Homo sapiens: one gene and its partner. The protein of the gene in region 1 purifies or fractionates together with the protein of each later gene. This does not show direct contact. Each region holds a gene or a part of one and is shown on either strand. Other genes may lie near its edges.

Region 1 (7,020 bases):
CCTAGTACAGTATTTCTCAACCTTTGCTTTTTTATTGCTCCCCTGAGAGGAGCCTTTCAAGCCTTTTTTTTTTTTTTTTTTTTTGAGACAGAGTCTCACTCTATCGCCCAGGCTGGAGTGCAGTGGTGCGATCTTGGCTCACTGCAAACTCCGCCTCCCAGGTTCACGCCATTCTCCTTCCTCAGCCTCCCGAGTATCTGGGACTACAGGTGCCCGCCACCGCGCCTGGCTAGTTTTTTGTATTTTTAGTAGAGACGGGGTTTCACCGTGTTAGCCAGGATGGTCTGGATCTCCTGACCTCGTGATCCACCCGCCGCAGCCTCTCAAAGTGCTGGGATTACAGGCGTGAGCCACCGTGCGCGGCCTCAAGACATTTTTTTCCTCATTGTATCCCTCCCCCTGTGCCCCTTCCCCAGGAAATCAAGTCCTAAGGAATAAGAGTTTGTTGGACAGAGTTGAGCCTTGGAGGGACACAAAACATTGTAATATCTAAGATTTTTTTCATACTCTCCCAGAAAGAACCAATTTTCACCCTGGGGTGGCGGGGTGGTAAAATTGCCCCTGTTCAGAATACATGCTCTAATAAGCGGCAGCCATGGGATTTTATCCTAATACTGAGTCTAGATGCCAAATCTTTTTCACCCTGTTCACAACTTAGGCAGCTAGAATGGGTCTTGCATTTGTAGTAATCACTGGTGTAGCCTCCTAGGGCAAATAACAATGTATTCCAAGCGTACTTATTCAGTGGATATTTATTGTGTTTCTACTAGGTAGCAGTATCAGGAACTGTTGTAGATACCAAGGTTAAAGTAGCGAATAAGATGTGAGCTCATGGGGTTTACATTCTAATGAAGGGAGACAATAAGAGAGGATGATGCAGTAAAGCAACTAAGTGGCTACTTTAGATCGGTTGGTCATGAAAGGCCCCTGAAGAGGCAAAATTGAAGCCGAGATCTGAATGACAAGTCAAGTCAACCATGCAAAGATTGGGGAAAGCATTTCAGGCCAAGGAACAGCTAGCACAAAGGCTCTAAGGTAGAAACATGCACAACATGTTGAAGAATAGGAAAGAGGCCCCTGTGACAAAAGCATTCTAGAGGGTGGGGGTTGATATGAGGTTAGAGAGGCAGATGGGGATTAGATCTCATAGGACCATGTCCTTTAGGTAGATGAGATTCAAAGTATAATGGGGAGTCACTGGAGGATTTTCAGCAGGGTCATGACATGCTGTGGTTTATATTTTCGAAAGATAATTTTGGGCTGGATACAGTGGTTTACACCTGTAATCTCCAGCACTTTGGGAGGCCGAGGTGGGCGGACTGCTTCAGCCCAGCCATTTGAGGCTGGCCTGGGCAACATGGCAAAACCCCATCTCTACAAAAAAAAAATTAAAAAAATTAACCACGCGTGGTGGCACGCGCCTATAGTGCCAGCTACTTGGGAGGATTGCCTGAGCCTGGGAGGCAGAGATGGCACCACTGCTCTCCAGCCTAAGTGACAGAGTGAGACCCTGTCTCAAAACAAACAACAACAACAGCAAAAAGATCACTTTGGCTGTTTTTATTTTTGGCTGTTATGTGAAGAATGAATTGCAATGGGGCAAGAGTAGAAGCACCAGGAGAAAAGCAAATGAGTTTTGAATAAATATTTTCCCCTATCTTCTACCCCCTAACACGTTTGGGGATGAATGTAGAAGAGTGATAGTGTTGGCATGGCTAGAAATAGGCAATTGAAGTAAGAGAATTATTCTTGCTTCTCTGCACATTTGCCATCTACTGGCATTTTCTACTGAGGCTTCTCCCTACATTATATTGAGATCTTGTCTCACTTCTTGGTCTGACCAGAAAGTTTGACCTTTCCACAGGATCAGGAGAAAAGCTGGTCCTTGCAGATCTGCTTGAGCCTGTTAAAACTTCATCTTCTTTGGCCACTGTGAAAAAGCAACTGAGTAGAGTCAAATCAAAGAAGACAGTGGAGTTACCTCTGAACAAAGAAGAGATTGAACGGGTAAGCTACAGAGAAGGTGGTCTATTAAGGGAAAGAAATTGAATTGACAAGGGAAAATAGGGTAATAGAAAGAAGGGAAAGACCTGAAAAATGGGAGAAGGGGGAGTTGTGATTTCCCCACTATGGATAAGATTAAAAATAATCTAGGAGTGCCAGGCGCGGTGGCTCACGTCTGTAATCCCAGCACTTTGGGAGGCTGAGGTAGGCGGATCACCTGAGGTCAGGAGTTCGAGACCAGCCTGTCCAACATGGTGAAACCCCGTCTCTACTAAAAATACAAAATTAGCCGGGTGTGGTGTAATCCCAGCTACTTGGGAGGCTGAGGCAGGAGAATCCCTTGAACCAGGACGTGGAGGTTGCAGTGAGCTGAGATTGCACCATTGCTCTCCAGCCTGGGCAACACGAGTGAAACTCCATCTAAATAATAATAATAATCTAGGAGAAATTGCAGTCCTGAGAAGCAAGAGGACTAGCATCCTGATTCTTTCATCCTGATTCTAGCATCCTGATTCTTTCTTGGGCTAAGAAATGTTGCTTCCTAATTTCTTGTTAGTCCTTTGGGTTTGATGCTTTAATCTTGTGGCTCTTTCCGTTTACATGCCTTGCCTGCTTCAGATCCACAGAGAAGTAGCATTCAATAAAACCGCACAAGTCCTCTCCAAATGGGACCCTGTCGTCCTGAAGAACCGGCAGGCAGAGCAGCTGGTTTTTCCCCTGGAGAAAGAGGAGCCAGCCATTGCTCCCATTGAACATGTGCTCAGTGGCTGGAAGGTGAGTACAACAAAATGAAACTGAAAGGTGAGATTTTATAAGTTGGAGATTTCAGAGCCTGCAATTGATTTGATTGGACATGTTAAGCTAAACCCCAGCATAAGTCATTTTAGCTTAGTGCTCAGAAAGAAGGGGTTGCCCATCGTCATTGTCAGTCATGTGATAGCCAGTCACAATAGCTCTGTGATCACTTTTTTTTTTTTTTTCTTGAGACAGGGTCTTGCTCTGTCGCCCAGGCTGGAGTGCAGTGGCACGATCTCAGCTCACTGCAACCTCTGCCTCCTGGGTTCAAGCAATTCTCCTGCCTCAGCCTCCCAAGTAGCTGGGATTACTGGCGTGCACCAACACGCCCAGCTAATTTTTTTTTTTTTGGATTTTTAGTAGAGATGGGGTTTCACCATGTTGGCCAGGCTGATCTCAAACTCCTGACCTCAAATGATCCGCCCACCTCAGTCTCCCAAAAGTTTTGTGATTACGGGCATGAGCCAATGCGCCCGGTCTCTGTGTCACTTTTCATCTGCTTGTAGTATACAGTACTTGCTATTTCCATGTTTTTGTGTTAAACCATGTGATTGCCCGTATAGCAGGAACATAATAATGTTTTCTTTCTTTTACCCCAGTTTTTAAAAAGCATTTAAAGCCACATTCTGATCCTAGGGAAATCAGGAACTCGATAACATTAATGATGCCTTAGTGAGGATATGTGAACAACAGAAGCCAAACTTTGCTTGTACAGGAATACCGCATTAAAATATAATGTGTTGCTGGCAATGACTAGAACTTCAGCAGGTAACTTACTATGACTCTGAGCTGCAGGGCAGGGGTTGATGTTTTAGAGCTGGGTTTCCCAAACACTGACCCCTAACAAAGTTTGTGTCTGAAGCAAAAGGATAATTCTAAGTATGTTTGTTTGGTGGGTGTAATGTTGCCAGTTCTTTTTTATTATGAGGTTATTCTATTTTAATGGTGTTGAAATATCTTTTCTTCTATGAAATGATGGTGGTAGTAAATGATGGGATTGGGGGTGAAATGGTAGTTATGCTCTTGGCAAAATTAGAAGTTGGAAATCCTATGTTGGTCCCTGAAGTCCGGTTTTTAGTCCGAATAACTGCTTTAGAACAGCTAGCCTACTTTTCCAATACACCATTGGTATGGAGTCTATAATGGGCTGATTAGTCTTAAATAGATGCCCTCTTTGTGCTTCTCCTCTTTACTTTCCAAAAACCCAAGAATGGTAGTTTCTTAGGCGTTGGGAAGTTGAGCTAATTAAAGCTAATCAAAGTAAACATTGCTTGCCACAATAGCTAGAAATTGAGCGAGTAGTTGCTTATTATGGGGATAAGCTGTTTCTGATGTTTTTGCTGAAGTCACTACCATTCTCTTTCTAGGAGGCTTCCTTTTCTACATGAAAAAGAGATCAGGTTTAAAGTGTGGCTGCAGGATGAAGGGAGACTTTAGAAAAAAAAAATCAGAGGTAATACAATTTGTAGGATTCAAAAATAAAAAAGCATAGAAGATATGTAGTGAAAAGTTTGATTCCACCCGTGCCCCATCTGATCATTTTTACCCCCATACTCACCCAGAAGTAACCACTTGCATAAGTTTGCTGTTGTTGTTGTCTTAGAGTTTTATTTCTATATTCATGTTTACCTCCTTTTTAAATAAAAAGAAGGGTAGCATGCTACTACACACTGTCCTCCACCTTGCTTTTTCCAAATGACAGTGTAATCTTGGAGATAGCAGGAAAATGCCAAGTTTGTTATTAAAAACGAGATGGGGCCGGGTGTGGTGGCTCACGCCTGTAATCCCAGCACTTTGGGAGGCCGAGGCAGGTGGATCACCTGAGGTCAGGAGTTTGAGACCATCCTGGCCAACATGGCGAAACCCCATCTCTACTAAAAATACAAAAATTAGCGGGGCATGGTGGTGTGTGCCTGTAATCCCAGCTACTAGGGGGGCTGAGGCAGGAGGATCACTTGAACCTGGGAGGCGGAGGTTGCAGTGAGCCGAGATTGTGCCACTGCACTCCAGCCTGTGCAATAGAATGAGACTCTGTCTCAAAATATATATATAAATAAATAAAAAATAAAAACTAGATGGTAGTGGAGGAGGTTACACTAAGAATAGAACAACCTCTTCAAGATAGAGTGAGGCTCAGATGTCATACATTGAATATACCATGCCGTTCATTCATTCTAAGACTGACTTTTGAGAAATTATGCTAGTAGGGCACAGAGAAATAAGGAAGTGCTTAGTTCAGAGGGTGCTTTGTGGCTAGCAACTCCTAGGTCTCTCCTTACAACTTAGATTGCAAAGTACCAACAACTAGTATATGCTGTATTAGGATTTCTAGAAACTGAATATCAAGTCTCAGACCAGGCACGGTGGCTCACGCCTATAATCCAAGCACTTTGGGAGGCTGAGGCAGGTGGATCACCTGAGGTCAGGAGTTCAAGACCAGCCTGGCCAACATGGTGAAACCTCGTCTTTACTAAAAATATGTAAATTAGCCGGGCATGGTAGCACATGCCTGTAGTCTCAGCTGCTGAGGAGGCTGAGGCAGGGGAATTTCTTGAATCCAGGAGGCAGAAGGTACAGTGAGCCGAGATCACGCCACTGCACTCCAGCCTGAGGAAAAAAAAAAACCCTCTACTCTTTCCCCGCCCTCCCCCAAAAAAAAGAAAAGAAAATCGAAAGTCTGTACTATAGTTTTGGTCCAGCTCCCTAAAATTTTGTTTAGCTGCAAATAATTAAGTGGGATAATGCATGAGAAGGCATTTGTAAACTGCAAAGTGCTAGAAATGCTGTGAGGTAACTTCTTTCACCCCTCTCCTCACTATTCTCTGTCTACAGTGGTATTTCCCAAGGCATTCTCCTTGAAACCTTAGTCTCTCATTATGCCTTCACAAGAGGAGGAGAGGAGGCATTGCTAGAAAATGCTGCATGCCCCTACTGGAGATCGGAGAGTCACAACATGCTTTAGCATTTTAAAGTCTATGAAACAGGCCAGACGGATGTGGTGGCTCACGCCTGTAATCCCAGCACTTTGGAAGGCTAAGGCGGGTGGATCACCTGAGGTTAGGAGTTTGAGACCAGCCTGACCAACGTGGCAAAACATCGTCTCTACTAAAAAATATTAAAAAATTAGCTGGACGTGGTGGCTTATGCCTGTAATCCCAGCTACTCAAGAGGCTGAGGCACCAGAATCGCTTGAACCCAGGAGGCGGAGGTTGCAGTAAGCCAAGGTTGGGCCACTGTACTCCAACCTGGGCAACAGAGTGAGACTCTGTCTCAAAAATAAAAAATAAAAATAAAGGCTATGGGCCGGGCGTGGTGGCTCACGCCTGTAATCCCAGCACTTTGGGAGGCTGAGGTGGGTGGATCACAAGGTCAGGAGATCGAGACCATCCTGGCTAACACGGTGAAACCCCGTCTCTACTAAAAATATAAAAAATTAGCTGGGCACGGTGGCGGGCGCCTATAGTCCCAGCTACTTGGGAGGCTGAGGCAGGAGAATGGCATGAACCTGGGAGGCGGAGCTTGCAGTGAACCAAGATCGTGCCACTGCACTCCAGCCTGGGCGACAGAGCGAGACTCTGTCTCAAAAAAAAAAAAAAAAAAAGGCTATGAAACAATGGTGAAGACACCTGTTGGATCTAATTTAACTTAGGGTGTACAAACTGATTTTATTAAAATTTCAAAAAAATTGAATTTTAAGCTTTTAACAGGGGAGGCAAATCTTGTTATCTGATGAGAAATGTGTTTGGGGAAGAGCTGGTCTGTCTCCACTGCTGCCTCCTCTCTCTCACCTTCTTCCCCTACTGCCCTACTGAAACTTCTCTCAAAAGGCATTAGTGAGGGGCCTCCGAATTGCCAAATCCCAAGCCCTCTTAGTCTTTAGCATATTTGACACCATTGGCACATTTCATTCTAAAAATCTCTCCCCTCTAGCTTCTGTGATATACTCTGGGTATTTTCTCTCTCTGGCTTTCCTTAGTCCTTTTTATTCTTGCTCTGTAAATTCCATGACTTTTTTTTTTTTTTTTTTTTGAGACGGAGTCTTGCTCTGTCGCCCAGGCTGGAGTGCAGTGGTGCAATCTCGGCTCACTGCAAGCTCCACCTCCCGGGTTCACGCCATTCTCCTGCCTCAGCCTCCCAAGTAGCTGGGACTACAGGTGCCCGCCACCACGCCCAGCTAATTTTTTGTATTTTTTAGTAGAGACGGGGTTTCACCGTGTTAGC
Region 2 (7,985 bases), on another chromosome or scaffold:
GTGTGCCCCAAAATTCTGCTCTAGTGAAAGTAAGGACTTCCTCCAGCACCTCATATTAAGCCATTCAAATTTATCACTGTGGATCATCTAATTCTATACATGGATCAAGTATCTTTTTCTACAAAAACTTCTGTAAAGAAAAGCCAGGTGCAGTGGCCTGGGCCTGTCGTCCCAGATGCTTGGGAGGCTGAGGTGGGAGGATAACTTGAGGGCAGGAGCCTGAGGCTGCAGTGAGCTATGATTACGCCTGTGAATAGCCAGTGCAGTCCAGCCTGGGCAACATCGTGAGACCCCATCTTTAAAACAAAAAAAATCGTGGCTCACGCCTGTAATCCCAGCACTTGGGAGGCCGAGACGGGTGGATCAGGAGGTCAGGAATTCAAGACCAGCCTGGCGAAGATGTTTCTCTACTAAAAATACAAAAAAACTAGCCAGGCATGGTGGCAGGCGCCTGTAATCCCAGCTACGCAGGAGGCTGAGGCAGAGAATTGCTTGAACACGGGAGGCAGAGGTTGGAGTGAGCCGAGATCGCGCCACTGCACTCCAGCCTGGGCAACAGAGCAAGACTTGGTCTCAAAAAAAAAAAAAAACAAAAAACAAAAAACTTCTGTAAAGAAATTTCAGAAGCTTATTTAAAAAAAAGCATTATAAGTTGTCTGATTTGAGAAAATAAAAGAGCCTTTTCTCATGAGAATTATCAAAGACTTCTCACCAACTGAACAATCACTGCTGCGTCACATGCAGACAATTCAACGGAATCAAAAAATACACAGAAGCCTCGCAGACTCACCTGGGATGTGCAGACTTGGGCCTGCTGTCCTACTGCGGCATGGAACCAGGATCTTAACGGAGGGCTGAGTTTGGTTGGGCAGGTGCTACGCGGAGCTCCTGAATGTAAGCGCTCCTGGACTGTGGCCTGTTCAAACACCGAAGCCGCAGAGCGGGCGTCAGAGCCTGTGGGAGGGACAGGGAGACCATCAGTGGAGGCGACTCTTCCTGTGCCTTCTCTTCAGCTACTTCCCAGGGATGCGGCGCGCACCGGGAACCCTCTACCACGAAAAAGCCGTCCAAGGAGCATCCACGCGTGCACTCAGGATGAGGCGGGTGGACCGTACTACCTCATCACCAGTTGTTGTAATGCACACGATATGAACACCTTAACCTTGACCCCAGACAAGCCCAGAGAAGGAAAACCTCCCCAACACCTGCCAGTCAGCTCCAGTCTAATCTTATTTCCAAAGAGTAAGAGGTAATAAATCCCCAAGTTTTGGATTTAATGAACCAGTAAAACTTCAATAACAACAACAACAAACCTCAGGGAGTAATAGGAGTTGCCAAAATTTTGCTTTGCTAAGTGTGGATTTTCTCTTTCATTACCATCTACGATCACTATGATTACATAAAATTAAGGTTCGTAAAAACAGTTTACAGTGAAAACATTCAAACACACAGATGGAGAACCGCACAGGGAGCACATGAGCCCCCCTTATTCAGCCTCAGTAACTACATCTGACCCATCCTGAGTCACTTCCCATCCCCAGGTAATTCTACAGCAAATCTCAGACCTATGACTTCATCCATAAATAAAAGCATACCAACTCCCGAAAAATGTGTAAGGAAATGATCTCAGAATAAAAGCCATCTACAAAGTGAAGACATCCAGTCGTATTAAAAACTCCCCACAATATCACTGCTTTCGGTTAGGACTCACATCTACCCTGGAAGGTGAGAACTCTGTCATGCACAACCAACGCTTGAGAACCACTTAGGGAGGGGATAAACGAACCTTGGGAGATGTAACCCAGTTTCACTCGAGATAAGTAACTTTGAACTTAACCCACTCCTTAATGTAGATGCAGAGATTTTGAACACAATTTTTCAAGTGGGACAGGTCAATCTCTACTTCACCAATTCCACCTAAAACATTAAGCAATAACCTAAACAACGCTCGCTCGCTCTCTGACGTGTAGGAGCCCGAGACAAGTGTTCCTGTAATCACTAGCAATCCCTCCGACGCACACACCATCCACACTCTACCCAACTCAGGAAGGATGCTCTCTCTTGTCCAAGGACAGCACAGGCCTCATCCACATTTCCACCTGCGCGAACCCCAGCCAGCACCATTTAGGCTCATTCCCGCTCCCTCCTCCTTCTAAAGTCACTTTTCCAGGATGAACTGCAACGGACGCTCGCAGGGTCAACCACGTGCTGGGGAGAGGAGCCCACGGAAGCAGCGGCCTCCCGGGGCCCAGCGCCGCGCTCCAGGGGCCTCCCGGGCGACTCCGCAGCGCCTGCCCCGAGCCCGGCCGCGGACACAGCGACCCGAGCACCTCTCCCCGAGCATGGCTCCGTGGCGAGCGTTACGTAAACGGGGGCGCGCGGAGTCTCCCCTCTCGTGTGTCTGGGTTTGGCGGCCGCCACTCCAGCCCCAGGCCCAGGACCCCCACGCCACCCGCCAGAAGCAGCAGCATCGGAACCGCACCCCGCCCCGGGCTCCATGGCCTCCTCCGCAACCACGAGGAAGGTGCCCGCCCCGGGGCCGCACCCGCCCCGCTGAGCTCTGCGGCCGCACGCGACGCCCTCGCCCTGATTCCGACTTCAACCTCTCCGAAGTTGACCTGAATCCTGCACAGACAGCGGGCCCCGGCGACCCCCATCACCGGCCCGGAGCCCGGGGGACGGCGGAGACCGGCGAGGACAGCCCGGCCCCGGACCCTCCTCGGGAATACCCGGGCTCTGGAGAAGCGAGCTCGCGAGCGGGCGGAGCATCCCGGGTCCTCCTCGGGGACGGCCGAAGCCCTGCGCGGACCCGCGCCCACGTTCTCCCTGAGCGTCCCGGCTGCGCCCGCCAGCCCTTCCCGCGCCCCAGGCCTCGCGGAACCCCCCGCCCCGGTCTCGTCCCCAGGCCTGCGCACCGCCCCGACCCGACCCCAGCCTACCCCGGCCTCTCCGCGGGCGCGCCACAAGCCTACGCAGCCCTGGCGACTCCTTCGGCCCGCGGCCCAGCACGCGCACCATCCGGGCCTCCGGCGCCTCACACACGTGTCACCGCGACGCTTAAAGGCGCCGCACCCAGCGTTCGCGCTGCGCTAACTCCGAAAGGGTTGGGAGGCTTTAAGAGGCGGGGCTAGATTCCGCTAACTCCCTGTCCCCGCCCACCGCCGCTTCCGTGTCGCCTACGTCACCTCCCCATCACGGGACCCCGCCAGCCTACGTGATGACGCAAGTGCGCAGAGCCACAGGCGCTCCCGCCCCTGTGCCGCGGCAGGGTGACGTCTCCGCAGCGCACTAGAGGTGCCGCTACTTCCGGGTCGGCCGAGCACACCTGGCGGCGTGGCGGACGCCTGAAGTGTGACAGTGGCGCGCGCCCCCGCCCCAGAACGGGGACTCGAGGGACTTTGCCCACCCCTGCAACAGCCCTCCCGCGCTGTCTCCCGGGCAGGGAGAAGGCTGGGCTCCCCCACCTGCCCCTGGCCGTCAGGTGGCTGTGGAGAAGCGGAGGCGCGGGCGCTCGGCCTTAACGTCCCGGGCTCTGGGGCCATCCGTGACTCCCACACGCGGAGCACCTGCAGTTTGGGGAGGGAGGGATCTGGGAGCGATCGGCCAAAGCCTGGGGCTGCCGAGGAAATGGCTCTTCGGAATTAGGGATCTGAGAGTGTGAGATTTGACCTTTGTAGGCTGGTGGCGGCTGTGCAATCTCTAGCTCCACCCACTCCCTCCAAAAGCTTTGTCCTCTGACAGCTCTGCGAAGGTTTTAGCTGAGTATTTGTGAGCACGTATTTCTTTTGCAGTATTTTTAAAAATCCTCTTGATCTGAGGCAACTTCGCTGGCTTCCTCCCCATTCCCTTGGGCAGGTTGAGAGTGTTGGTTCCTGGCCTGACCTCAGAAACTCAGAGAAGCACAGGATGGGCATAAACTACTTTATCCAAAAGGCAGAACTTTGCAAACACAGTCGTATCTGCTGTGTCTTTTTTGATGTAAGTAGGAATGATGAGTAGGGTGAAGTCACAGGTAAACAACCCAAAACGAATTTCCATGCCCTCCCCACGGATCCTAAAGCAGGGACTGGAGATGGGGAGAGAGGCTAGATGTACTTGGAACAAAATTCACCTTGTATTTATTACCTGGGCGCTGGTGTTTTTTGAAAAAAGCAAACAAGATAACCATATTAGTCTGATGCTGAGACTATGCCCTATCTGTAAGAATCCTTGGGCTGGGCGCGGTGGCTCACCCTTGTAATCCCAACACTTGGAGGCCAAGGTGGGCGGATCACCTGAGGTCAGGAGTTCGAGACCAGCATGGCCAACATGGTGAAACCCCGTCTCTACTAAACATACAAAAATTAGCTGGGTGTGGTGGTGGGCGCCTGTAATCCCAGCTACTCAGGAGGCTGAGGCACGAGAATCCCTTGAACCTAGGAGGCGGAGGTTGCAGCGAGCTGAGATGTCGCCACTGCACTCCAGCCTGGGCGACAGAGCGAGACTCCGTCTCAAAAGAAAAGAAAAGAAAAGAAAAAAAGGCAGGGCACAGTGGCTCACGCCTGTAATCCTAGCACTTTGGGAGGCCGAGGCAGGCAGATCGCTTGAGGTCAGGAATTCCAGACCAGCCTGGCCAACATGGTGAAAACCTGTCTCTACTAAAAATACAAAAATTAGCTGGGTATGGTGGCGCACGCCTGTAATCCGAGCTACTAGGGAGGCTGAGACAGGAGAATCGCTTGTACCTGGGAGGTGGAGGTTGCAATGAGCTGAGATCGTGCCATTGCACTCCAGCAGCCTGGACAACAGAGCAATACTTGGTCTAAAAAAAAAAAAAAGAAAGAAATGCAACGTAGGTCTCTCACGAAATTAGCCCAAATCTTCAGCCATCTTCTACAGGCTGTGAAACCAGGAGAGGAATTGAGTCCATCTTACCTTGACCTCCCAGGCAGGGAGCGGACCAGGTAATTTTTGGGTGACAATACAACTATTCTGTTAATGCACCTTTTTCTTGAGGTAAGTTCTAATGTGATCCGTTTTGGTTACAGCTTTCTATAACAGAATATTTTATTCTTTCATCTTTAATGTTTCTCTAGTTTTCTCTTTTAGGATTTAGAGATCATTCAGTCTCATCTCAAATATTTCAATTTCCATGTGGTTCTTTCATAAACATTTATCCACAGTGAGCCTGCCCTGCATTCTTTGGGTGTGGCTGACAGTTGCAGCCACCCTCAGGTCTGCGGGGGTGGGTGTGTTGCCCCTGAACTGCAATAGCAGAATTTCTCCCTAGCCTGGCAGGGGAGTGCAATCGTGGACTTGCTTTTCCACCCGCTGGGGTTGCATTTCATAGGTGCCGAGTGCCTGGGGGGCCCAGGCCTTTTCACATGAGGGTTTTCAGCCCAGATGTCCCTCCTGCTCTAGGGGAACCCTTCACATCAGTCAGGTGACTTGCTGGACTGGTAGAGCCTCTGCCATCAGCCTCTGATGCAAAACCTTTTCTCAGGTGTCTGTGCGGTCCATGGAGACCCGAGTTCCCAGGTTTGGGAGGGATGCCACTTTCCTTAGGAAGAACAGCAATGTATGTCGTCCTTCCCATCCATGCAGATGGGACAGGGCTCTCAGGAAATCTGCCATTAGCATCGCCCTAGAAGATGCACAGGCAGAGGCAGCTGCTGGGCACAGGCACTTGGGGAAGACAGGAGCCATGACGCCACGCCACCTGTTGGTACCCAAAGGAAGTGGCTCTTTTGGCTGCTTGGCACCATTCTTATGACCCTTCCATTTTGTTTCTAGTCTCAGAAGGGGTGGAGAAAGTCATCCTTCCTAAATGGTGTTGACTCTCAGACATCTGACCGTGCCAGGAGAATGGCTGTGCAAGGCGGCAGCCCAGGCCCGGGCAGGTGGCGGCCAGGAGTTGGGACCACAGAGGGCACTAGCAAGAGCAGCAGCTGCTCCGAGATGCTTTGGCACAAGTCAGGATACGTATTTTGTAGTTTTCTCTTGTTTTTTATTTTTCTGAGGTGGAGTCTCACTCTGTCGCCCAGGCTGGAGTGCAGTGGTGCAATCTCAGCTCACTGCAAGCTCCGCCTCCCGGGTTCAAGCGATTATCGTGTCTCGGCCTCCAGAGTAGCTGGGATCACAGGTGCACGCCACCACACCCAGCTGATTTTTGTATTTTTAGTAGAGATGGGGTTTCGCCATGTTTGGTCTTGAACTCTTGGCCTCAGGTGATCTGCCCCCCTCAGCCTCCCAGAGTGCAAGGATTACAGGCGTGAGCCACCGCACCCCACCTCCCGGCCTTTTCTCTTGTTTCATTTTGGTAAACTAAATTAGTTTAATACCTCTACCCCATCGGTGGTTGGAATTCCCCACCTCAATCATTTTGGGGGCTCTCTGCCTCCTTTGAATAGGACAGATCTCCAGGGGTTTACCCAGGCTCCGAAGAGCCACTCCAGGCAGCCGGCTGTTTGGGGAGGTGCACCCTGGTCTTCTAGTCTGCGGATTCCCTGCATCGCTCCCCTGGTACTGCTCTCAAGCTCAAGGGTCACCTCAGCCAGATGTGCCCTAGGCTGGCAGAGGTCCTTCCCCTAAATGCAGCTGGGCAGGATGCCACCCTTTCTACAATAAGTTCGGTCCCAGGGATTCCCCCAACACACACACACATACATTCTCTCTTACTCACATCCTCACACACACTCACACACCCCACCACACTCACACACTTTCAAAATCCACCGACTCTCACGCTCACACTCGCCAGCCCTTTCCCTTGCTCTGTCACTTCCCTCCAAGTCCCCGCCCCACACAGCCTCCTGCAGTCCCAGCCCCCTTGGTGCCAGCCATCTCTGGTGCCAGCCATCTCCCCCAAATATCCACCCTTCTGGGCTCCTTTCTGCCCAGAGGGACCTGAAGTTTCCCTAGGAAGCACTTGCTAAAGGCCTCCAGTCTCCAACTCCTGGGGAAGAAGGATCCAGGCCTCTGCCGCACAAAGCCTCCACTGTTCTCTTGGGGCTGGCACCCCTTCCTGTGGCCCTGTGGCACCAAACAAATTGATTCATCCAGCGAATATTTCTTATTTACTCTGTTCCACATGGTGGTGAGTGAATCAACCCTGGACTCTCCCCACAAAGGACTTAAGAACACGCAGGTCATGAACAAATGAACACTTTTGCATAATTTTTATGACCAACGGTGACCAGGCCAAGAGCAGGATGAGGTGATGGAGAATACCTTGGCCTGGGGCATCGGAGGAAACTCTTGCGAGGATGTGCTACCTCCGTTGAAAGTGGGAAGATGAGAGACCGGCTGTAAGAGGAGCAAGGGAAGGAGGTTCTGGAATGAGAGAACAGCACGAACAAAATGCCCGAGACAGGAGCGAGCTTGGCACCTTCAAGAAAATAAAGAGGAGAATCACTGAACCTGGCACGTGGAGGTTGCAATGAGCTGAGATCGCGCCACTGCACTCCAGCCTGCGAGACAGAGCGAGACTCCATCTCAAAAAAAAAAAAAAAAAAAAAAAGGAAAGAAAAGGAGGCCATTGGGATGGCTGAGGCTGGAAGGGTGGACCAGGTGCCCCACAGGCAAGAGGTCCCAACTATAGATGAAGCACGCAGGCTACAGACAGGTGAGTGGTGCCTCGGGTGAGAGGCAAGTTTGTCTCCATAGGTCATCCTGCTACACGGAATTCTCCAGAATCCCCTGCAAAGGTGTAGATGGGCTGGGTGCAGTAGCTCATGCCTCTAATCCCAGCACTTTGGGAGGTCGAGTCGGGCGGATCACCTTGAGGTCAGAAGTTCAAGACCAGCCTGACTAACATGGTGAAACCCTGTCTCAACTAGAATACAAAAATTAGCTGGGCATGGTGGCATTTGCCTGTAGTCCCATCTACTCAGGAGGCTGAGGCAGGAGAATTGCTTGAACCCGGGAGGTGGAGGTTGCAGTGAGCCGAGATCGCGCCACCGCACTCCAGCCTTGGTGACAGAGCGAGACTCTGTCTCAAAAAAAAA

The links. Proteins that work in one complex are often made in the same cells at the same time.
Region 2: the proteins of UTP14A (region 1) and USP36 purify together in Homo sapiens (affinity purification with mass spectrometry; 2 studies listed by BioGRID). This does not show direct contact.

Annotation. Positions count from the first base shown.
Region 1 is NC_000023.11:129,909,144-129,916,163, forward strand, and holds part of UTP14A (U3 small nucleolar RNA-associated protein 14 homolog A), read left to right. Parts: intron 1-1,864; coding exon 1,865-2,007; intron 2,008-2,622; coding exon 2,623-2,778; intron 2,779-3,435; exon of another isoform or gene 3,436-3,548; coding exon of another isoform or gene 3,549-3,567; intron 3,568-4,166; coding exon of another isoform or gene 4,167-4,252; intron 4,253-7,020. UniProt on the Homo sapiens protein: May be required for ribosome biogenesis.
Region 2 is NC_000017.11:78,837,797-78,845,781, forward strand, and holds the start of USP36 (ubiquitin carboxyl-terminal hydrolase 36), read right to left. Parts: upstream 3,019-7,985; 5' UTR 2,940-3,018; exon of another isoform or gene 2,483-2,939; intron 2,215-2,482; exon of another isoform or gene 2,043-2,214; intron 955-2,042; 5' UTR 791-954; intron 1-790. UniProt on the Homo sapiens protein: Deubiquitinase essential for the regulation of nucleolar structure and function. Required for cell and organism viability.